Linked DNA regions of Homo sapiens. The protein of the gene in region 5 purifies or fractionates together with the protein of the main gene of each other region. This does not show direct contact. Each region holds a gene or a part of one and is shown on either strand. Other genes may lie near its edges.

Evidence for each region.
Region 1: the proteins of DUSP1 (region 5) and HDDC2 purify together in Homo sapiens (affinity purification with mass spectrometry, with the first as the bait; one large-scale study listed by BioGRID). This does not show direct contact.
Region 2: the proteins of DUSP1 (region 5) and ACP1 purify together in Homo sapiens (affinity purification with mass spectrometry, with the first as the bait; one large-scale study listed by BioGRID). This does not show direct contact.
Region 3: the proteins of DUSP1 (region 5) and ICMT purify together in Homo sapiens (affinity purification with mass spectrometry, with the first as the bait; one large-scale study listed by BioGRID). This does not show direct contact.
Region 4: the proteins of DUSP1 (region 5) and IGF2BP2 purify together in Homo sapiens (affinity purification with mass spectrometry; one large-scale study listed by BioGRID and IntAct). This does not show direct contact.
Region 6: the proteins of DUSP1 (region 5) and MAPK10 purify together in Homo sapiens (affinity purification with western blotting, with the first as the bait; one study listed by BioGRID). This does not show direct contact.
Region 7: the proteins of DUSP1 (region 5) and BLVRA purify together in Homo sapiens (affinity purification with mass spectrometry, with the first as the bait; one large-scale study listed by BioGRID). This does not show direct contact.

Annotation. Positions count from the first base shown.
Region 1 is NC_000006.12:125,274,850-125,277,967, forward strand, and holds the end of HDDC2 (5'-deoxynucleotidase HDDC2), read right to left. Parts: intron 2,392-3,118; coding exon 2,253-2,391; exon of another isoform or gene 2,252-2,252; intron 1,395-2,251; coding exon 1,297-1,394; 3' UTR 501-1,296; downstream 1-500. UniProt on the Homo sapiens protein: Catalyzes the dephosphorylation of the nucleoside 5'-monophosphates deoxyadenosine monophosphate (dAMP), deoxycytidine monophosphate (dCMP), deoxyguanosine monophosphate (dGMP) and deoxythymidine monophosphate (dTMP).
Region 2 is NC_000002.12:267,947-271,446, reverse strand, and holds part of ACP1 (low molecular weight phosphotyrosine protein phosphatase), read right to left. Parts: intron 1-3,500. UniProt on the Homo sapiens protein: Acts on tyrosine phosphorylated proteins, low-MW aryl phosphates and natural and synthetic acyl phosphates with differences in substrate specificity between isoform 1 and isoform 2.
Region 3 is NC_000001.11:6,223,329-6,225,964, forward strand, and holds part of ICMT (protein-S-isoprenylcysteine O-methyltransferase), read right to left. Parts: intron 1,935-2,636; coding exon 1,752-1,934; 3' UTR 1-1,751. UniProt on the Homo sapiens protein: Catalyzes the post-translational methylation of isoprenylated C-terminal cysteine residues.
Region 4 is NC_000003.12:185,689,043-185,692,542, forward strand, and holds part of IGF2BP2 (insulin-like growth factor 2 mRNA-binding protein 2), read right to left. Parts: intron 586-3,500; coding exon 313-585; intron 179-312; exon of another isoform or gene 66-178; intron 1-65.
Region 5 is NC_000005.10:172,768,396-172,772,450, reverse strand, and holds the start of DUSP1 (dual specificity protein phosphatase 1), read left to right. Parts: upstream 1-1,255; 5' UTR 1,256-1,498; coding exon 1,499-1,865; intron 1,866-2,144; coding exon 2,145-2,290; intron 2,291-2,656; coding exon 2,657-2,876; intron 2,877-3,318; coding exon 3,319-3,689; 3' UTR 3,690-4,055. UniProt on the Homo sapiens protein: Dual specificity phosphatase that dephosphorylates MAP kinase MAPK1/ERK2 on both 'Thr-183' and 'Tyr-185', regulating its activity during the meiotic cell cycle.
Region 6 is NC_000004.12:86,101,554-86,105,053, reverse strand, and holds part of MAPK10 (mitogen-activated protein kinase 10), read left to right. Parts: intron 1-1,809; coding exon 1,810-1,868; intron 1,869-3,021; coding exon 3,022-3,160; intron 3,161-3,500. UniProt on the Homo sapiens protein: Serine/threonine-protein kinase involved in various processes such as neuronal proliferation, differentiation, migration and programmed cell death.
Region 7 is NC_000007.14:43,789,680-43,793,179, reverse strand, and holds part of BLVRA (biliverdin reductase A), read right to left. Parts: intron 1,932-3,500; coding exon 1,812-1,931; intron 466-1,811; coding exon 368-465; intron 1-367. UniProt on the Homo sapiens protein: Reduces the gamma-methene bridge of the open tetrapyrrole, biliverdin IXalpha, to bilirubin with the concomitant oxidation of a NADH or NADPH cofactor. Does not reduce bilirubin IXbeta.

The DNA.
Region 1 (3,118 bases), on a different chromosome or scaffold from region 5:
TCTCTGTGAATTGTTTTGTTAGCTATTTATGAAAATTATGGTAGACAAAACATTGAAAATAAAACTGCAGGGCCACAGAACACCTTCTGGTTATAAATACTTGAACTTTATCTGGGGTTATTTTGTGTGTATGTTTTCATGCCAAGGGAAAAACTCCACAATCCTAATAGATGGAGTTGTTTTCCTACTAACCATATATCCAGTAATGGACTTTACCCTCTTTCTTCTTTTTGATACAGAGCAATTACACATACATATGTGTGTTGCTTCTGAAAAGATCATGCACCTTGCTTCCTGCAGATTGGGTATCCATGGATACCGCAAAGAGTTTCCAAAGAAACACTGCCTAGAATTTTCACCATGCCAGCCTCGAAGGCCTTCAAATGGAAAGTGACATTTGAATTAAAGGGACAAGCATCATTGCTCCACACCAAAACACTGGGCAGGTTTGCAGAAATCGTATTCTTTTTTGCACTATTCAATGTAAAGGCAGACAGGGTGGATTATTTATCCTATAAAAGGGAAAAGAGAGGAAGAAATCGGGTTGATATATTCCCTACCTGAGGCTCAATGACCCCAGTTCCTATTTATATTTCTCACCTGATGATACATGCTTTTACAATAAAGGTCTCAAGATTTATAAGTCAGACAGGGAAAAATATACAAAGGAATACAAGTTGCATTTTTATATGCCCCGGTTTATATCTCTAAATGACAAAAAGTATTGGGAAGAGGGGCAGAGCCTATTAGTAGGTTTACAAGCCTATGATTAGAAGTCTGAAGCAGTCTGCAGTGAAATTCAAAATCTGGCTCAAGAGAGTAAATCTGAATAAGGCAGCAATTTCATCTGGGGAGAGAATACATCACTAGTACATTTTCTTTTCTGGATTCTTATCACTAAATCAGCTGAAGAATCTGTTCTTAAAAGCAATCATAATGAAATTTTCTATTATTCAATGAACCTAGCCTTCGGGGATATCGGTAATTAAGTCAGAATAAGATGATTTTAAATCTCCAATAAATATTCTAATATTTTAGGTGTTTAATATTTATTTATTTAGTTCATAAACAGGCACTGCCACCTCCAGTGTTCATCCATGGCACTTTCATGACCGCTTCCTGTTCTGTGGCTTCTTTTAGTGCCCAAGTTGTATCACATTTCTTGCTGAAGTTCAGACAATTGAAAACAAACAGACTCACATCTAGGGAAATCAACAGACCAACAATGGCAAAACACAATACAATGAAATGGAAAAATAATGTTTGTTACAGGAGTGCAGCAATTTAGAGAGTGTCTCAGGAGTGTGGCTCACTGGCAGCTGCAGCTATGTTAGTGCTTCTTTCTGCCTCAAGTTCAGAAACAAGCTGGACTATCTCAGGGTGATTGAATTTTCCTGCAAAGCAAAAGAACAGGGAAAAATACATTCCCATATTGACAAGAGAGTATATTCATTTCCCCAGCTTGATCCCAGGGTTCACTGGGGGCTCTAGTCTACGATCTGACCCACACTTCATTCCAAAGCAGAAAGAGATTCCAGGTCCTGGGAAGGGGCTGAAGGGGACCACTTGGCATTTACGCTCTGTCACCCCAGGTGCAACTGAGAATAAGGATGAGACTCAGGCAAGGAATCATCAATTAGGCAGAGGTAGGGGAAACTTCACCAGGCTCCTCAGTGCCTCTACCAGGAACTATGGGAAAACTCAGGTGTGAGAGCCCAGAAAGCTGAAGACAATCTCTGCCCATTCCAAACCTGCAATTAAGTAAGGAGAATGAAGCACCTATATATGAAAAGACAAGGAGGAAGATCAGAGGGGCTAGGCTGGCTCATGATGTAAACAAGGATGCAGGTGTCTCTCTTGTAAACACCTCTACACTTCAATTGGCTGATCTGTGCTGTCATCCCTGCTCCTCAGACCTCCCCAGATTTCTGCTTTGGTAGCAACCAAGCTCTAAGCTATTGTATGTCCATGACGGCTAGCATGGGGGACTGTTCAACCCAACATCTCTTCTCTCACCGTCTTTTCTTGCCTGTGTCTGTTGTTGCTTACTGTTCATTCCACATTAAACTCTATTCCATTTATTTCCTATCCTCAGCCTCTTACCCGAATGTTTCCTTCCCTTTCTTTTTAGATGCTCCACATGAAAGGGTCAGATGAAGGTACCAACAGTGGGTTTCCCTAATATTAACATTAGTCACTACACTGAGTAAGCCAAACTAAAATGGACTCTTGTTGAAAATGGTGTTGAGTACCTGCTGTGGAATCATAGAAGTCTTGCAGTCTCCCAGGTTTGTGTTCAAGGTCTTCATATTCAGATGCTTGAAGAATCATTTCACATTGGTCTAGCTGCTTCACAAATTTGGCTTCTGCACTAGATTGGGTCTCGTACTCCTAAGTAAAGGGACAATTAAAGCAGCATGATTAGCGCTGCATAATAGGGTATCCTGGGAAAATTCTGACTCTGGTACCCGAAATCAGAGTGACAGCTACAAGTACATTCTGTATCGGCCCCATTTCTCTACTGTTTAGAAATCCATCAGAGACACTTCTGTAATTTCACAGCCTAACACCAGGACTCTATACAAGAAAGATGTGCTCTCCATTCTAAGTATTCTACCAGAAGCCATGGAAATCTTGTATGTTCATCTTAGGTACTTTCAAGATCTTTTCTTCCTGTTTAATACCGTGTCTTCATTTTAAGACCATTGTTCTTTAATCTACCTAAGTAGTTTAGATATTTTTAACATCAAGCTGATATTTCGTCTTATGCCTCTCAAACCTGTATTTCCCTCTCCATTTCATGTCAGGTTTCCTTGTCATTTCTAAGTGTATTTCTAGCTTTATCATTTACTTTTGGTTACCACTTTACCTGGGAATCTCTGTGCTTACTTTCCACATAGGGTAGATTTAATTAAGTCCCTCTGAGTTAAGACTATTGAGGATAGAGCCAAGATCTGAGGATTTTACATGCACCGGTATGTGCATGTGTTGCAGGTGGGAGGTGGTGAATGTGGTGGGGGGAGCAGTTTTTTTACCTTTCCCTTCCCACTGGTCCCTCCCTCTGCAGTGCAGACTTGGAACAAGAAGCTCCAGGAGTTCTGCTTCTTATAGAATGATG
Region 2 (3,500 bases), on a different chromosome or scaffold from region 5:
GGACACCCTCCCACCCCTACCCAGTATACCAAAACGTGCATACTCAGGTCCTATAGTTGGCCCCTGAGAATGTGGAGCCCAAGTATAGGAAAAGTCAGCCCTCCATACAGATGGGTTTCTCATTCAGACAACACGGTATTTTCCATCTGTGCTTGATTAAAAAAATTCCTCGAATAAATCCTTCAAAGTTCAAACCCCTGTGGCTGAAGGGTCAACTGTATGTATTTTCAAGTATATCACACATAAGGATGACTACTGTTTCACAAAACAATACACAAACACACAAACATGCATTTAAGCATAAACAGCGATTCAACACCAACATTTACTGAGCGATCACATGCAAAGCCCTGAGCCCAGGGATACAGATCCAGGCATTAGCAGCCCAAGGTCAGGGACACCACTCTCCAGACCACGATGTCGACATCAGGGCCATCCTTACTTTAGACCAGCAAGTGAGAAATCCAGGTTCCCCAGGGCTCCCTCAGGTTTGATAATTCCCTAGAATTACTCCCCAAACTCAGGAAAGCAGAACACTTACCATTACAATTTCATTATAGTAACAGCAACAAAAACAAAAACAAACAAACAAACAAAACAGCCAAAGCAAGTGACCTATAGGGCACATTCTGGGAGGTTCCCTAACAGGTAGCTCCACTGTCCTCTGGGACACCTTACTCTCCTGTCATCAACATGAGACAATATTCAAAGAGCACTGCCAACCCAGGAAGCTCCTCAGAGCCATAGTGCTCTGAGGTTTTATTGGGGTTTTCGGAGGGAGACACAATGGGTTGAATCACTGGCCATTCAGCTGAACTCTATCTCCACTTTATTTATTATATTTATTATAATAAAAGTGGGAAAATGAATGCTGATAAACAATACACTACAGCAGCACAGAAAAAGAACGATGCTACAAAGCAAAAACAAGATATAAGAAAATTTCTTACCAGAAAAAAGAAAGATTAGAGATGATATTAAAAGGATGATCAGGATCTTAATGGACAGAGGAAGGGAAAGGCATTTAACTCAGAGGGATTGTGGCACTAAGCAGGTGAGGCTGCGATGCTTCAGGTACAGAGAGCCAGTGTCTGGAAACTGACGGGCTGGTATACAGGAGCCCTAAAACACTGGGCCAACATTTGAACTTTGCGTAGCCACTATGAGGAGAAATAGAAAGTCCTATGGAAAAGGGTAATATGACTTATTCAACAAACATATTTTGTATGCCAACTCTATGTGCCAAGCACTGTGCCCTAACCTGAAGACAGAAAGTTGTTTAAAACACAGACCCTTCCTACAAGTTACCAAAATTACCGGCACAGCTAAGGAAACACTAGAAGAGCACATGACTGAATTGGAGAGACCTTGTAAGAGGCTCGTATGAAGGAGCAAATACAAGACAGTGTCAGAGTGGAAAGGTGTGGCAGCTTTCCTCACCCATCATAAAGGTCATGGAAGATACTCCTGTAACAAAAGACAGGTTAACAAGAGCCTTCAGAAATGAAGACCCAAAGACCCAGGGAAACGGTTTTGATGCTTAGATGACCAATGCACAGCTGTGTAGAAATGGCACTGGACAAAAGGAAATGATCCAATGGTAGCAGACTGAGGGAAACCCAGCAGGGCCACAGCATTTCCTCCCCCAGGAATGAGGCAGGGCCCCTCTGAAATGCTGTCTTCAAGAGAAGGCAAAAGGGAGAGAGTGATCTTTCTAGGTTTTATGGCTTGCTTTGCAGGAGAGGAGTTCTAGTTTCTATGATCTGCGCTGGGGAAGATAAATGATGGTTTCTACGACCTTGCTTCTGGGGCTGCTCTGAGGCCTTCCAGTCTCCTTAATGCCAAAGCACCACACTGAGTCCAGACATTAGGAGCTGAATTTAGGAAACAGATACGAAAAAGAGGAACTGTGAGAATAGGCAGCACTAACTAAGAGTTTACTCTTTATCACTATTAGGGTCTTCTGTTTATGATAAACAAATACAATGAGGATCTTCTAGTGTTGTAAAACACAGCTAATTCCCTAGTTCAGAAAACCAACTCACTGCCTTACTACAGCCTTCAGTTTCTACATTGTAAGACCTAAGCATATTACGTACTTTTTTCCCACAGAGACTGTAGTTTCCACAGCAGTAAAAAATCTTACCTACAAACCATAAAGGGAAAGACAACAAATTAGCCTTGAATACCCTCTATATGCTAATTTGTGTTGTGAAGTTTTTCCTTTCGACATTCTAAATTTTGTTTAGTTTTCTAAACAGGTATTGTCATCAGCACTATTTTAATTATTGAAAGGCTTCCCATGGGTGTGTAACTCTTTTACTTGTCACCATATACCCTGGGAATATTTTTAACAGCAAACATTGTATTCCAAATTAAGACAATTATTATTTTGGATCTGTAGAACAACAGATGCCTAGTATCTCAGCATCTAAAAATATAATAAAGACTAGCCCCACACGTTTACAAATAATTATCTTTAACTGTAAAATAACAGCTTACTTTCCCCACAACAATATGAAAACTTGCATTATTAACTGTCCTAAAGGCTAGCAGTAGCTTGCCCTGTTGATTTCGAAAGTTGATGCCACCAAATTTTGTTATGAAAAAATGGAGCACCCCGGTCATCAGTGAAACACTGCATGTACTTCAGGTTTCGCCTATCAAACAAGTTCTAAAAACAGAACATTCCATCTTCAAATGCCTTTAAAAAATGTTTCAATCTGTAAAGTCTCAAGTTTGTCTTTTCCAAATTAGGCAGACTATTTTATACCCTTCTTCAGCATCTTCAATTCAAGGATGGAGACTCATAAAAGGCAGATAGGCTCTGGGAGGGTGGGGCTGTGTCTGCTATACCTGGTAAGAGACCCAGCACCCAGTATGGGTGTAGCCCAGAAGTAAAGTGACTCCACCAGCATGTGCTATCTCCACCAACCATGCTGGCTGGGTCATGGCTCCTGCATCATCTTCACTAATAAGTCTCTATTGCAAAAACATAAAGCACCCTTCATAATTGTGCTGTAGTAAGGAGCTCAATTATTTTCCATCATTAGCTTCACCAATGAAAAACCTCTGATGCTTTTCTACACTTCAATCTCAATAGGGTCCAAACAAATGCTTTGAATGAACAAAGTTTTTTACATTTCAAAAGCATACAACTCTTACTGTCCTCTATATGGCTACCAAGTAAAATGCCATTTACCGCTCAAATTCCCTCAGAATGCAACCAGTAAAGGCATGCTCCACCTCCAGTTTCATCTCAAAACAACAGCTGAAACTCTTCTTTTTTAAACTTAAATTTGATCACTTCCCACCTCTGCTCAAAACCCTCCAATGTTTATTCAGAGTAAGCCCAAGTCTTCACATGGCCTCCCAAGATCTGGACCTAAAACAGGGGTCTGAAAATCGGCTCATGGTCCACTGCCTTTATGTACAGCCCACAGCGGTAAGAATAATTTTTACATTGTTGAGTAGTTGGAAAAAATCTAAAAGTAGAGTAC
Region 3 (2,636 bases), on a different chromosome or scaffold from region 5:
GAACGCCTGACCTCATGATCCACCCGCCTTGGCCTCCCAAATTGCTGGGATTACAGGCGTGAGCCACCGCGCCCGGCCGTCTGTCTGGTTTTCAAACCAATCAATGAACCCGTAAGCCTCTTTGGTATATATAACAATGAAAAAATTCATTAAGCCATGAAATCTAGAAATAAGTCATATTTCTGAGTTGATAAAATGCTTTTCTGAACATACATTTTAGGTATCTGGCACAATTAACCAAATGTCTGCCCATTTTTGTGTAGCTTTCATACAGTACAGATTTCATTGATGTCGCTCCCACATCTGAGTATTAAAAACATTTGACATTGTTCTTCTCAGTCCTCACAACACCCCTGTGAGGTAGGTGGTATTGACCCCATTCCACAGATGGGGAGGTCTAGGCACGGAAAGGTTTAGTGGCTCCTCACAGGCCGCGTGGTGGGGCAGCAGAGTGGTGCTCTGGCCCCGCGCCGACGCCGCCTTCACATTCACACTTCTTCAGTGCCACCGCAACACTGCATGGCAGGATCTCACGCTGAGGCCAAGTTCCTGTCTAGTCCAGAATGAAGCCAGCGTCTCACCTCTTAAAGCTTCGATGTGTGACTCAAAGCCAACTTACTCTCCCAAACTTGCAAAACAAACATACTGACTGAATCTTAGTTGGGACTATTTGCAGTATTTAAGATTATTTTTGAGAGTCAATCTGCTTGGATTTGTAGTTGTATATGCTCAAATCCCTTTGGAAAACAGTTTGAAATGACATGAGGGACAATGTAATTTTGAGAACAGAACACAGAAAACAAGAGTTCTGAGACTGGCATTGAAATTGAGAATATAAGCTATGGTAAAATGAGAATCAAATCCCAAATAAACGGAGAGCAGCACTTCTCAATGTTTAAGGCCACGCACAGGGCAGGCATTCAGTAAGCACTTCTTGGATCAAAAGAAACTGATGCTCCTTTGAGCCGCCTATCACTGACAACAGGAGCTGAGACCCCCGGGAAAGCCAGCCAGGGCCATGATCCCCTTGGCCTGGGGCCACGGTCACACAAAGCCACTCAGCCAAATCGTGTAGAGTTATCTAGGCTTACTTGCTGCAGGATAAAAGTTGAACTAGAACACCAAGCATTGAGCTAGGAATACCCCTTTGAATGTGTACTGCTACTTATAAAAAATAGGTATGTAGCTATGATTAAATAGATGAAGGGCCAAAGCATCCTATGAGGAAGTATTTTTAAAATTGTATAGATGTTCATGCAGTGGGGGACAGAAATAAAGAGGTTAAAGCGGTCTGTGTTTTTCGGTTAAATGAAAGGTTGTAAATGCATTTTTACCGCTGATAAGAAGGGGTACCTGCTACCCCTTTCTGCTGTGGAGTGTTGCTGAGGACAGAGTCCATCTCTCCCAGCGAGTCCTGGTTATCCTTTACTTACACTCTGGCCTCGGGGGCAGTGGCGTGTGGCCTCGGTCCTCCCCAGGTAACTCTGGAGGGCGCTGTGGAATATTGCTGTGATTTGCCCCTTACTCGTCTTTCACCCATGTTCCGCCTTGATTCGGCATAAGGACAGACTGCTCCAGTGGGGCCTTGGGTCCTCAGGCCTTCTGACCGCTTGGTCTTGAGTGACATTCCAGAAGAGTGACTAATGACATAAAACGATTAAGAAAATCCATGTGGCAGCGGCCAACCGGAAACAGTTTTGTCCCAGGCTGCACAGGGTCGGAGGCCCCAAGGTCACCGGGGCCACTGCCCGTCACAGGTCCACCTTGACCCCCTTTATGAAAGGCAGGCCCGTGGGCACCCTCTTCTTATACTCCAGGTACTCCTCTCCAAAAAAGTGAATTAGTGAGATTTCTTCTTCTTCTGTTCGATCGCGGAAGAATCGCCACACTGTCAGGGCATAGCTGACGCCGCAGATGGGGTTACACAGCATCACCTAACAGAGGGAGACACCAGGCTCATCAGGGTGACCGTGGGATGACGCCCTGTGCTTTGGTAGGCGTCTGTCTCTAATACCCAGAGGATTTCTGTGCCCATGCCCTGCTGAGACCGTCAGGGTCTCTGGGAGCAGTACTGTCACCTTAGCCCTGAGCACTCAGTGCTGCAGGCCTTTCTCACGTGCTTTCCTGTTGCTCCTCTTACATGAGAGAGATCTGTAAATCACAAGATCAACCTCTTGGATTTCAACCCTCAGCTTGGGGTGACAGCAATGCCCCCCACCTCCAGGTGTGAGCTCCCCAACATGAGGTCCCATGCACGCTGCCTTCCTGCCCAGGACCCTCCCACCACAAATGCATTCGCTTACACCACAGCTGCCTGGGCCTCTGCCTCCTAAACCCACAGCCTCTGCTTCAGCACGAGATACAGTGCCACAAAACTCAGCTTCCGAAATGCCCCTTCCAGCAGATTACCTCCACGCTCAGAGAGCTCCAGAGACTGAACCCCACCCCCTGAGTCTGGGTTTCCAACCCCAGAAGAGCAGCACTTCGCCCACTTCCCCAGTCTCCTGCCCTCCCCACGCTGTGCCCACTTTGCCTCTTTTTTTTCCCCCGAGACAGATTGTCACTCTGTCACGTGGAGTGCAGTGGCGTGATCATGGCTCACTGCAGCCTTAACTGCTTGGGCTCAAGTGATTCTC
Region 4 (3,500 bases), on a different chromosome or scaffold from region 5:
CCCGCAGAGCTCCAAACCTCTGCTTTTGTAGAAATCAATGCATCCATAAGCATTAGTTCGCTTACAGGAACAGTCCTGGCTGTGAGGTTATCAGTACCCTCTTTATGAACTTTTAGCCTCTCAGCATGAAAGCTTGTCACAGCCCCCAGCTTGATGTTAGTCTGTTAGTAGTCCTGTTGAAAGAAGCCACTGTCTCTTACAGCACAGCCCCCCACTGCTGATGTAAGCAATTGTGACCTAAGAGTGGCTGAGACCCACCAGCACGCAGGGGACCCCTCAGAAGGAAGCAAAGGAAGCCCCACAGGCACGTACCGGGACTGGGTCTGCTTAGTGATGTTCTTTATGGTCAAGCCCTCCTTTCCGATGATGGCACCAACAAACTGGGTGGGGACCAGGATCCGCAGCGGGAAATCAATCTGTCTGGCCTGAGAAGTGCCCCCAGGGGCGTGGCCTTGCTCCCGGGAAGAGTGGTCCCCACGCTGGGCTCGCTGAGGGGGCGAAGGGGAGCTCACCTCTTCATCCGGGATGTAGGAAATCTTGAAGGAGTAGTTCTCAAACTGATGCCCGCTTAGCTTCTCCATGGCTCTGAAATGCAGCAGGACAGGGGAGCTTCGTCAGAAACCAACATCAAGAAAGACCCTCCCGGCCGGGCGCGGTGGCTCACGCCTGTAATCCCAGCACTTTGGGAGGCCGAGGCGGGTGGATCACGAGGTCAGGAGATCGAGACCATCCCGGCTAAAACGGTGAAACCCCGTCTCTACTAAAAATACAAAAAATTAGCCGGGCGTAGTGGCGGGCGCCTGTAGTCCCAGCTACTTGGGAGGCTGAGGCAGGAGAATGGCGTGAACCCGGGAGGCGGAGCTTGCAGTGAGCCGAGATCCTGCCACTGCACTCCAGCCTGGGCGACAGAGCGAGACTCCGTCTCAAAAAAAAAAAAAAAAAGAAAGACCCTCCCGCAAGACTGGTTCATTCACTCCCATTTAATAGGTGCCTATATGGTGCCATGCCAGGCACTGAACATACAGTGGTGAGCAAGACAGACACCATCTCTGCTCCCTCAGGGCTTACGGTTAACAGTTAAACAAGTAATCACAACGCATCAGCCTGGTCAGGCTTCATATCCAACATTACAGCCTGGTTTCTCCACCACTCAAGGCCATTTCCCCCTTATCAAAAACTCTTATAAATATCAGTATAAAATTATGACTCATTTTTTTCTCATTTTAATCATCATACATATTATTGAAAATTCAGAAATATGTAAGTGCAAATAAAATCCTAATCCACTATCTTTACTGTCTTTCTTAAATATAAACATATTATTGCTTATAAAAATGGGTTAATATTGTACATACTATGTTCTAACCTTTAAAAAAACAGTTAATATTCTAAAACATTTTTCAATGTCACTAAGTACCTTTCAGTATAATTTACACATGACTCAACTGCAGTATCAGTATAATTTTTAATGACTGTTTAACATTCTATTGATTTACCATAGTTTTTGCAACTGATCCTTTATAGTTAGATATCTGTTGTATCCAACCTTTTACAGTTACACACACTGTCACCATTGGCATCTTTGCAACTACAACTTTGCACACAGGACAAATTCCTAGTAGAATTGTTAACTATTGCCCAGTGGGCCCCTGGAATGGTTTCAACATTTATGATCCCATAGCAGTTTAGGAGAGAGCATTTGTGTCCTTGAATCTTCAAATGCACAGAGCGCTGTTATTTAAAGATATTTATCAATTTGATAGGGGATAAATGATATACCACTATTATATTCTTAAAATGACACACGAAATACACTATCCTTTTCACATATTTTTAGTAGCATTAACCCAATTTTACTAGGTTAATGTCTAGGACTTGTAAATTTATTACAAAGCAGCACCTTTTGAATTTAATAAAAGCAATAGAGTAATATCATGTAGAGAGGTCCACCCAAGCAGCAGCTAGATAAGGGCTGTGGAGTTGAGTTGTTGGTGTATCTCCACTTACAAATGTGTACAAGGTAAAGTTAACACTAAATGAACTATTACCTTTTTCTTTTTTTTTATTTTTTTCGAGACAGAGTTTCGCCCTTATTGACCAGGCTGGAGTGCAATGGCGCGATCTCAGCTCACTGCAACCTCTGCCTCCCAAGTTCAAGTGATTCTCTTGCCTCAGCCTCCCGAGTAGCTGGGATTACAGGCATGCGCCACCACGCCTGGCTAATTTTGTATTTTTAGTAGAGATGGGGTTTCTCCATGTTGGTCAGGCTGGTCTCGATCTCCCAGCCTCAGGTGATCTGCCCACCTCGGCCTCCCAAAGGGCTGGGATTACAGGCATGAGCCACCACGCCTGGCCTGAACCATTATCTTTTTCAATGCAAAATTAACATTTTGAAAACTAGCAGTATGAAAATGGGTTAAATATCTTTGTATGTTGAAAAAGAACACTATAATCCTGGGATATATAGCCAAGGTTATGCCACACCCATAAAGCAAGACCAAATGTGACCATAATTCTAGTTATAATGACCTGACAGGCACTTTAAGGACCTCCTACAAAAAAGGAACTTGTTTTTGTTGTTCTTTTAAAGATGGGGGTCTCATTATTTTGCCCAGGCTGGTCTCAAACTCCTGGCTTCAAGTAATCCTCACCCTCCCAAGTAGCTGGGATTATAAGCATGTGCCACCACATCCGGCTGTTGTTGTTTTGAGAGGCAGGGTCTTGCTCTGTTGCCCAGGCTGGATGGTAGTGGTGCAATCACAGCTTACTGCAGCCTTACCATCCTGGGCTCAAGTGATCCTCCTGCCTCAGCCTCCCAAGTAGCTGGAACTACAGGTGCAAGCCACCATTCCCAGCTAATTTTTAAATTGTTTTTTTGTAGAGACTGGGTCTCCCTATGTTGTCCAGGTTGGTCTCAAACTCCTGGGCTCAAGCAATCCTCCGGCCTTGCCCAAAATGCTGGGATTACAGGCATGAGCCACCATGCCTGGCCTCATTGTTTTTTAAGAGACTTGATCTCATGTCCATTAACAGCTAAGCTCAAAATTAACCATCCCTGAAGTAATGAATGGGCACTGGAAAGAGGATGGGGATTGGAGAAAAGAACCCAAACCAGGTGCTATTGAGTAACCACTCTCAGACAATTCTCTCGGCTGCTGCTCTCACTGAGGTGGATTCCCTCCTAATGTTACACACACAAAATTGATGTTTTGGTATAGGCTTGTGCTGCCTCTTCACAGTGCATGGAGGAAGCTCTAGGTAAAAGTGGTCCCAAGTGTTTGGCAAAGCAGAGTCTAGGAGACACAGTGTCACAGGTATGGTGCCCTCTATTCCCGATCATGTCAAGACACAGCTCCCATCTTGGTTTTGATGCCAAGGCTCAACATTTTTCAAGTCTCTACACAATCCACAAATATCCCGGTGTGAATGTCCTGGAGCTCCACTGACATGTCAAAGATGGCAGGAACACCCTGGAGCTCTACCAATATGTCAAAGGTGGC
Region 5 (4,055 bases):
AGGGGGCCGTCACTGGGACTCAGGGCACGGAGATCGCTGGGCGGGGCGGGGGTCTTCCCAAGTGTTGCGATCCAGGTCCTGGCAATCCGCCCACAATGGCCCGGGATTGGATTTTGCTTTCGGCCTATAACGGCCGCGACGACAGGGAGCGAGGGTTGTGGCCGGCTTCTGTTCCGGGTTGGAGGCCCCCAGCCCAGCGCTTAGTGGGCGCTCACTGTGTATACTGCCTATTTGTATAATAAAGAAAGGGATGGAGAAGCTCAGTCTGGAGCCAAGGTGACAGAAACGTGTCGGGCGGCCCCTGGGGGGCGCCGTCGAGTCGCGCTGCGGGTCGCCCCTCACCCCTCCAAACGCCAAACCCTGGAATCCACTGCGGGGCCTTGCGACCCCTCACCGGGATTTCAGCCCCCTGACCTGCCTCCCTTGGCTCCAAGTCTTCCGGGGGCCACAAGACTAGGAATAGCATTATTTCCCGGTGGGAGTTTGCTTGCTCACACTTTCATGGCAAATGTAGATATTTTAAAGCCACCTTAAAGAAAAGTCTGGGAAACAGGAAAGCATTGCCCTGAACCTCTCCGCCCCAACTCGCTCGAGTCGGTCTTGGTAGGGACGACTTTTCTATCGGCAGAGTTGTTCATTTTTCTCTAAACTTCATCTTAGGCGCCTATTTGCTGCCCCCACCCCAGTAGTGTGGTTCTGGGCAAGTCAGTCGCTTCGCCTGGGGAACCTCAGTTTCCCCGCCTGTTAGTGATGAGGAAATGAGGAAAAGGGGCACAAGAGTATGCAAAAGCACAGGAAGCCCCTTTCGGTTCAGGTCGGCGGCCGAGGGGCACGGGGAAGGGGACTCGGGGAGGGAGAGAGGGAGGAGCGGCGAGGCCAAGGCAGGTGGCACGTCGCCCGTTCTCCCGGCCGCTCGCATCCCGGAGGTCAGCCTCAGCTGGCAGCGAGCCCTCCTCCTCCCCGCTGGGCCTGGAGCGCGGCGCGGGTCCGGTCCCTGGGGACGCGCCAAGAGCAGGCCGGACAGCAGGGCGGGGGCCGGGCCGCGAGCCAGCGCGCGGCGAGCGGACCCAGCTCCGAGGCTGATGACGTCTCCCCCTCTGGCTCGGCGGCGCCTGGCCTGGCAGGGCGGGTGACGTCACCGCCCCGTCACGTGATCACCATTCAAACAAACACCCCCCCTCCCCCTGCGCGCGGGTCTGGCCCGCCCCGTCCCCCAGAGGCCGCATATAAACGCGCTCCCCGGGCCAGGCTCGCTGCGAAGGACATTTGGGCTGTGTGTGCGACGCGGGTCGGAGGGGCAGTCGGGGGAACCGCGAAGAAGCCGAGGAGCCCGGAGCCCCGCGTGACGCTCCTCTCTCAGTCCAAAAGCGGCTTTTGGTTCGGCGCAGAGAGACCCGGGGGTCTAGCTTTTCCTCGAAAAGCGCCGCCCTGCCCTTGGCCCCGAGAACAGACAAAGAGCACCGCAGGGCCGATCACGCTGGGGGCGCTGAGGCCGGCCATGGTCATGGAAGTGGGCACCCTGGACGCTGGAGGCCTGCGGGCGCTGCTGGGGGAGCGAGCGGCGCAATGCCTGCTGCTGGACTGCCGCTCCTTCTTCGCTTTCAACGCCGGCCACATCGCCGGCTCTGTCAACGTGCGCTTCAGCACCATCGTGCGGCGCCGGGCCAAGGGCGCCATGGGCCTGGAGCACATCGTGCCCAACGCCGAGCTCCGCGGCCGCCTGCTGGCCGGCGCCTACCACGCCGTGGTGTTGCTGGACGAGCGCAGCGCCGCCCTGGACGGCGCCAAGCGCGACGGCACCCTGGCCCTGGCGGCCGGCGCGCTCTGCCGCGAGGCGCGCGCCGCGCAAGTCTTCTTCCTCAAAGGTACGCCCTCGGGGAAGCTCGGGGCGGGCCGCACACCCCTGAGGTTTTGCCCGGTACCCCTGGCTCTCGGCTCCCGGGGGATCGCCCCACCTGCAGCGCGTGGGCGCTGGAGTACATTTATCTCTGGAACTTGTCATTGGCTTTGTTTGGCTCTGGAAACAAAGACTTGCCTGGGCCTTTCCGATGTAAACTTCCAGCCCTTGGTGGGTGGGGGAGTTGTATGAAGGTGCCGTGTCCCGGTGTCACTAATGGGGAAAAAAAATGTCTTTGTATTCCCAGGAGGATACGAAGCGTTTTCGGCTTCCTGCCCGGAGCTGTGCAGCAAACAGTCGACCCCCATGGGGCTCAGCCTTCCCCTGAGTACTAGCGTCCCTGACAGCGCGGAATCTGGGTGCAGTTCCTGCAGTACCCCACTCTACGATCAGGTTAGTAGGTGTCCCTGCCACAGGGAAGAAGTAAGAACTGGCAAAGGCATGGAAGAGTAGTGCCAGGGAGAATATAGAAAGTGACCTGCAGCATTATTTATAACGGAGGGGACACAGGGATATGATTTATTCCACAGTTAAGTGGTCTGACGGAGCCGAGTCTCCAATTGTAGGCTCTACGGAAATGAACTTGCTGGTCCTGCCCAGGCAAATGGGCTTAGTTCCCTATTTATTTATCCTCCAGCAACAGAACTGAGTTCACTCGGTATCTGAAATTGACTTTTCCAGCAGAAAGTTTTTGTGGGTATGGGCACTGGCCTTGGCTTTGAGCAAGCTTGATGAATGTTGGATATTTCTGGATTTCAGGGTGGCCCGGTGGAAATCCTGCCCTTTCTGTACCTGGGCAGTGCGTATCACGCTTCCCGCAAGGACATGCTGGATGCCTTGGGCATCACTGCCTTGATCAACGTCTCAGCCAATTGTCCCAACCATTTTGAGGGTCACTACCAGTACAAGAGCATCCCTGTGGAGGACAACCACAAGGCAGACATCAGCTCCTGGTTCAACGAGGCCATTGACTTCATAGGTAAATGGAATGGATGCCTGGGGCTTTTCTGCCTTTCTCTTCTCATTTTAGCCACTAAGCCCAACCTCTGTGGCAAGAGCTTGAAGTTTTCTGAGCCTTCTTCCACACATTCAGTATCAGTCTGGTGTGGGCAACATTCCTGTAAAATATGAATTTGATTCGATGTCCCACTTTACAGATTTGCAAAGTGGGGCTCACAAAGTTGAATTGACTGGTCTGAGATCTATCTGCTAAGTGGAAATCCCCAGTCTGAGTTTAAATCCTGTGCCATCCTTTGCACAGTGCCCACGTTGCCTCCATGAACAGTATCCATGTGATGGCATGTGGTGATGTTGACCATTTCTAGACAAGACACACATGACCTTTCTCAGATACACTGTACCTGGGCTTGGGGTGGTTCTCCTGAACTCTCAAGTAACCAGCCGCTCCTTTGGTTTTCCAGACTCCATCAAGAATGCTGGAGGAAGGGTGTTTGTCCACTGCCAGGCAGGCATTTCCCGGTCAGCCACCATCTGCCTTGCTTACCTTATGAGGACTAATCGAGTCAAGCTGGACGAGGCCTTTGAGTTTGTGAAGCAGAGGCGAAGCATCATCTCTCCCAACTTCAGCTTCATGGGCCAGCTGCTGCAGTTTGAGTCCCAGGTGCTGGCTCCGCACTGTTCGGCAGAGGCTGGGAGCCCCGCCATGGCTGTGCTCGACCGAGGCACCTCCACCACCACCGTGTTCAACTTCCCCGTCTCCATCCCTGTCCACTCCACGAACAGTGCGCTGAGCTACCTTCAGAGCCCCATTACGACCTCTCCCAGCTGCTGAAAGGCCACGGGAGGTGAGGCTCTTCACATCCCATTGGGACTCCATGCTCCTTGAGAGGAGAAATGCAATAACTCTGGGAGGGGCTCGAGAGGGCTGGTCCTTATTTATTTAACTTCACCCGAGTTCCTCTGGGTTTCTAAGCAGTTATGGTGATGACTTAGCGTCAAGACATTTGCTGAACTCAGCACATTCGGGACCAATATATAGTGGGTACATCAAGTCCATCTGACAAAATGGGGCAGAAGAGAAAGGACTCAGTGTGTGATCCGGTTTCTTTTTGCTCGCCCCTGTTTTTTGTAGAATCTCTTCATGCTTGACATACCTACCAGTATTATTCCCGACGACACATATACATATGAGAATATA
Region 6 (3,500 bases), on a different chromosome or scaffold from region 5:
AGGAACTAGTGGGGCCTGACAAACATAGATTCACATCTGTGTGTCTCAAGATGCTGGAATAAAAGAACTGAGATTCCTGTCTGGAAACTGTTGGATTAAAATGGAAATTTTATAGCTGTGATAATCTCCTTCTACAGATGCCTTTTTAAAATTGACTATTGGTAGGAATTAGAATTTACAAGAGAGCAAATGAAGGATAGAAGAGAAATTCTCGAAGAGTAAAAAGTAATAAAACAAGGTCATAGGAAAAGGGAAAATAAGAACATACAGTAGGGAATAGATCTTGATAAATTACCTTTTAAAACAATAAATCTTGATTTATTTAAAATTGTAATGCTATTTTCTATATTTTTTAAATTATCTAGATTATTTGTTCACTAAGTGATCTGGGTTAGCATTTTTCCATTTTTAAGTAGTGTTCATGTGAATGTTTGTGTGGATGTAATGTGTGCTGTATACACAGTCTCTAATATTTTTGTTTGAACAAATAGCAAAATGAAATAAATTACTTTATGAGATTGATAAAGTCCTAGAGAAACAGACCCACTGTAGATGTTCCAATGAAAGGTGTACTTCATAGTCATTTTTCAACACTCACTAGCACTGAGTACACAGAATAACATGGCACTTTAATCACAAGTTATAAAGATAATTTTAAAACAATTTTATTTCTATATGAATATTCCACACTGCAAGGTTGCTTTAGAAGAGATGATCTTGTATTTTTAAAACTATATTACAACATTGCCATATATATGTATACTAGAAAATATTGGATGGTACTGTGGTTATTTTTTGTCAATAATTTCTCAATCAGTTAAAACTACGTGAGACATAAAACATTCCATAGAATTGAGTCAATTTCTCAGGTGTTTAAACTAATTTTGTTTTATGTTTATTACTCCACATGTCTTTATATCATTTATAAAGTTTACTGAAATTCATTGATTGATGCTTTGAAGCTGCTTAAATCTTGACCTTGTACTTATCTAATTTTTATAAAATAGTTGCAACTATCTTGTGAGTATAAGATTTTTATATATTTTTATATTCATTTCCTACTGGCACGTTAGTACCAAATATTTAGCTGGAAGAACATTTTGAGTTATTGATGTATGTACTCTACTGAGAAATGTGACAAGGGGTTTTTACAAAATTTGCTTATACTAGAAGGTAGATTTTTTTACTAGCTGATATATAAAATAAAGCAGGAAACAAAAAGCTTTTAACTGAATTTAAATAACTTTAAAATAATTTTCTATTAAATCCATCATTGATATCATCTAGAATGCACCTTTCCCCACACATATTATTGGAGCATTAGTTTAATATTTGAGTGTGAGGTAGAAGTAAAAAAAAATATAAAGTAACAACACAAAAAAATCATGAAGTAGAACACAACTTTGTTCATTTGGAGAAGTATCCCCTTGCTAAGTCTCACTGAGTGTTTTACTGCCACCTCTCTCCTCACATGGCATTTCTTCCTTTTTTGTTTAATCCCCCGAAGGCCCATATTCTGCCACGAGGAATCACACTTGAAAGCAGTGTAACAATTATGCATCTCTCTGACTCTTGCTTCTGCCCAAGAATTGAGCTTTTTAGCTGCATTATTAACCTGAAGACAGATCATCTGTTCTTTCTGAGCATACTTTTCTGTGTCCTCTGAGACAGCTCAAGACATTTTTCCAACTTCTCCATTTCTGCCATAGCACTAGTGAGTGACTTTGAGTTGAAATACAATTTAAAAATAATACATTCTCTCTCTTTTTTCTTTCTCTCGTTTCCTCTGTCCCTTCCACTCTCTTTCAGATTATTAGTTTATTAAATGTCTTCACACCCCAGAAAACGCTGGAGGAGTTCCAAGATGTGTAAGTAACAAAACTCATGAAGGAAGGGAGAGCACAGCACTCAGATAGCCCAAGGGAAAATCACACACCACACACACACACACACACACACACACACACACACACACACAGAGTTGAAATCCCTTATACTGCTCAAAGAGAGGTAAGAGGTGGGGTCAAATGAAAGGGGTCCAGTGATATGTAAAGAAGATTCTGTTTGTGGGGTTACTTCCTGGAAAGACATTCTGCCTCCTTTTGGCCTTGTGGCTTTATATACTTTGTTGTTCCATGCTCTTGGTCACTCAGGGAAGGCTTATTTATTTATATTTATTAATAGATTCCACAAACTTTCTACAATGAGTTAATTTACCTGAAGAAATAGTAATAAGGCCAGGCATGGTGGCTCACACCTGTAATTCCAGCACTTTGGGAGGCCGAGGCAGGTGGATCACAAAGTCAGGAGATCAAGACCATGCTGGCCAACATGGTGAAACCCCACCTCTACTAAAAATACAAAAATTATCCAGGTGTGGTGGCATGCACCTGTAGTCCCAGCTATTCAGGAGGCTGAGGCAGGAGAATTGCTTGAACCCGGGAGACGGAGGTTGCAGTGAGCTGAGATCGTACCACTGCACTCCAGCCTGGGTGACGGAGCGAGACTCCGTCTCAAAACAAACAAACAAAAAGAAATAGTAATAAAAGGGACGTGAAAATTATCTTTATTCTTTCTATCTTTATAGTGTCATTGATTTTGTGCAAAGTCTACCCAGTAGTGACAACAGATGGAGGAGAGGAAGTGATTCCCTAGCACCTTGTCTTTAATACAGATACATTGAATTTAATGGAAGAAGCTGTCCTTAATTTTTTTCTTATTTGAAATTATAATATTCACAAAAGAGTTGAGGGAATACAGGGGAAAGTGAAAGCAAAATTAAGGTAACAAATCTGTGGACATGAACCAGACATTAATAAATGCTTTTTCTACTAGCAACCTTTTGGTAGGGTTCGTATAGCTAACACACATGCAATACCTGGAAATGCTCAGTCTTGATTAAGTCAAAGGCAGAGCTAAGAAGTTCAGAAGACTTACAGAGTTAGGAGAGCATTCTGACTAAATCAAAGGACTTCATAGATCTTGTGATCTGGAACTAACACTGTGGATTCACCCTTCTAGTTACTTAGTAATGGAACTGATGGATGCCAACTTATGTCAAGTGATTCAGATGGAATTAGACCATGAGCGAATGTCTTACCTGCTGTACCAAATGTTGTGTGGCATTAAGCACCTCCATTCTGCTGGAATTATTCACAGGGTAAGAACACCTTCTCTAGGATTACAATTCAAATGCTTTAAGAGGAAGAGTAACTGTAGATTATTTTCTTTATACGGGGGGCATTGGTCAAATATAATATACTTCCTCATTTCTTTGATACTAGAATTAGCACCTAGTTCACTAATTGTAGAAGGAAATTCTAGTTATATTGTAGTTGAGTTTGTTCAATGTTATGTTTTGGCTCATTGAGATGCAGCTTCTTAGAAGCCTCATGCTTTCAGCTCCTTGATTGGCAGAAGTCATATGTGCAACTGAAATAAGAAAATTCATTTCCATAGATGTTTCTGGCAGCATAAAGACAGCTTCCCTGATCTGTTCT
Region 7 (3,500 bases), on a different chromosome or scaffold from region 5:
CAAATAAGACAATCAGTTTCTCTGATTTGAGCATTTTTAGGATATCCCAGCATTTAGCAATATAAGTATCACATGAATAAAGCCAAAATAATATCATGACATAAGCATAGGTGAAAACTAATTCATATTTTTTCCTTAGAGTGAGTAAAATAAGCTGATAAGCTTTGACCAAAAGTTTGCAAATTCCCACCCATCCTTCTGCCCTCCACTATCTGTGTTTACAGTGTGGGGGTGAGGAGGCAGTTGGGAGCCCACAGTGCCAGTGTAGCCAGGAGGAGGAGATATCTGAAATGGGGTTAAGTTTTAAAGGCATAAAGATGATATCACAGAAATCCTGGAGGCAGAAACTCTTGGTAAGATACATTACCTTTCTGCTCAGCCAGCTCCCACAGTTCCTGAGCGGCCGCCAATGACAGTGTCATGGGGTATTCCACAAGGACGTGCTTGCCAGCATTAAGGAACTGCCTTTGGTAAACGAGACAAATACAGAGAAAGAACACTTCGAATAAGCTTCACTGAAATGCTCTGCATAATAGAGAACAGAATGTTATAAAGGCATGAGAGTTTCTGTGTGTGAATGTGTCATGACTGGGGGTAGGAGTCAGTGCCACGGGATATGGAGGAAGAACTGTATCCCACATTGTTTTCTACTATCCTGTGACAGATCAACTTTCTGGTTATGTGTTAATTTGAACATTCAACCATTCATTTATTCAACTAAGTACTATTTACCAATTACTGTGGAGGAGAAATAAAGACACATTAACAAATAAATTTCCTATCACCACATGGTAGCTATAAAGGCTACAAAACCCACAGCGGCTAGCTTTGCCTGAGGCAGTCTGAAAAGATTTCACTAAGGACCTATGAACTGGGTCTCAAAGTATGAGCAGACATTTTCCAGGTGCAACATGTGAGTATATTTCACTGTGAGCAGCGTATGCAGGGGCTTGGGCATTTGTGGGGCTTTGTTCAATCGGCAAACTTCAGTGTGGCAGGGGAGTGGACTACAGGCCGTGGAGGATAATAACGTTGGAAAAGTAGCTGGGGGCCTGACTGTGAAGGACCTACAATTCTGTGCTCAGCAGTTCAGATTTCATTCTGTGGATACCAGAGTACAAATATTTATAAGCATGGGACTTATGTCAGAATCACTTTTCTTAAGGAAATACACTCTGGTGCCAGAAAAGGTTAAGGAAAGCCAAGGAGAGGTGTTTTTGTCTACTCTAGAGCTAGACTGATAAAGAGGAAGCATCTTACCCGTGGGAAACAGCATGGTGGGAGCAGCTGTAAGAACCTAGAAGGAAGCTAGACTGAGGAAGGCAGCTGGCACTTCCCTGTTAGCTGCCAGGTCCTGAGGGTTAAAGGAACTCAACCGTTATTTTATGACATTGAAAGCACAAAGGAGAAAACGTTGGAAGCTGATCCAAACTGAGAAGGGAGTATGATAATTTGCCAAGGATGCCGGCTCCACATCCTAAACTGTCTGGTGAGAAGAAGGAGGCCACTACTGTTGAAAACTACTCTCGATGGGTTTTTACAGAGAAATAAAACACTTTAATTCTGAATGTTTCTAATGTTTCAAATTACACATACTAAATATTAATTTTACTATTTTTCACTTCCTTATATATTTATAACCAGCAATAAGAATTTCTTAATGTTTTGACACTTCTGTGATTGGTCACAGAGCAATTGTAATTTTCTCACTGGCTCTTCTGACTCCTTTGCAGGGTGTTTTAGCTTGCTTGCTCATTTTTGCAGTACTGCACTGCTGTGTAAGGCAAGGACTGCCTGTGTGGAAAACCCACCTGATGTAGTCCTCATGGCTGGAGCTCTCACTGCAGATATAGGCGACCTCCACCTCTTGGCTGGAAAGAGCATCCTCCAAAGAAATCTGCTGGACTCCATCAATGCTCCCGAGCTCCCTTCTATTTCAGAGTAACAGAGAAATGGAACTCAATGGTAGACAGAAGAAAGGAGCACCATCCTTCTCCCCTCCTCCCGACAGGTCCTGGTGATCTGCTGCCAGAAATGAAGAAATGAGTTTCTTCTCTCCCACTTCCAGGCTATTTTCCATTGTGGAGTGAGAAAAATAGCCTCAGAGTTCAAGTCAGGGGATCTGGCATTGAGTGCCAACAGTACCATTCACAGCGTGTATGACCTGGGAGAGTCTTGAATTACTTCATCTCCAAAACAAAAGAAACAGCTGGGCGCGGTGGCTCAAGCCTATAATCCCAGCACTTTGGGAGGCCGAGGTGGGTGGATCACTTGAGGTCAGGAGTTCAAGACCAGCCTGGCCAACATGGTGAAAACCTGTATCTACAAAAAATACAAAAGTTAGCCAAATGTGGTGGTGGGCGCCTGTAATCCCAGCTACCTGGGAGGCTGAGGCAGGAGAATCACTTGAATCCGGGAGATGGAGGTTGCAGTGAGCCGAGATTGCACCACAGCACTCCAGCCTGGGTGACAGAGCAAGACTCCTCAAAAATAAAATAACATAAAAATAAAAGGAACAATCTACTTTTATCTCATGAGAAGTGATCTCTATGGTCACTTCCAGTTCCAAGCACTTGGCCAAACATTGTGACTACCAAACCTAATCCAAATCCAATACGTTAACACATTTAGGGTGCAAACTGGCATGCGACTTCGAGCTACTTTATAGCTAAGCTAACGAAGCCCAGTAGTATGTACGCACACATGTTTGTGTGTGTGTGTGTCTGTGTGTGTGTTTGTGTGTGTGTGTGTGTCTTCCTCCCTCTGGCCGACTGAGCTCATTGGAAGGTGAGGAATTCGTTCTCCATGATTTCTCCTATAATGCCTAGCACATAATAGGCAGTGATAGCCTTGACTAACCAGGAGCAGAAGCAGGAGGGGAACCCAAGGCCTTCTGACTCTTCTAGAGCATGGGGGAGCTGCAGTCTTCGAAGAGCCAAAGCCCCAGCAGTCCGTACACCTCCCAGTGCAGCGGCTGGGGCAGGAGAGTAGCCCTCTAAGGGTGGCAGTCATGGGGGAATGTGGGACAGCTAGCAAGCAGAAGGCCCTCAGCCCGCTCAGAGCTCCAGCTGAGCTGCAGCAGGCAGAAAGCATTCAGGAAAATTTAGCTCCCAAAGAGTATTATGCTAGGTTTCTTTAATGGGGCCACCCAAACTAAATTGCTCAATTTCAGCAATACTTATTGTTTGCCTATTATGTACTAGGCGCTGTAGGAGAAATCATGGAGAACAAATTAAAATCATCGCCTTTCAATGAGCTCAGTCAGCTAGAGGAAGACACACACACACACACACACACACACACGTACATACCACTACCACAAGACTACCAGGAGAAATGTGGTGCTTGGAAGTAGGAGATGGAGACTCAGGGTGGGAAAGGAATACACCAGAAAAGCTTCCTGGGGAGGAGGTAGAACTTAGCAGGTAGGTCAGGAAGGGAAGGGTATGTGAAGAGGGAAACAGTGTGAGTACTGGCAGGGCTGTCATGCAGGGGTGTGA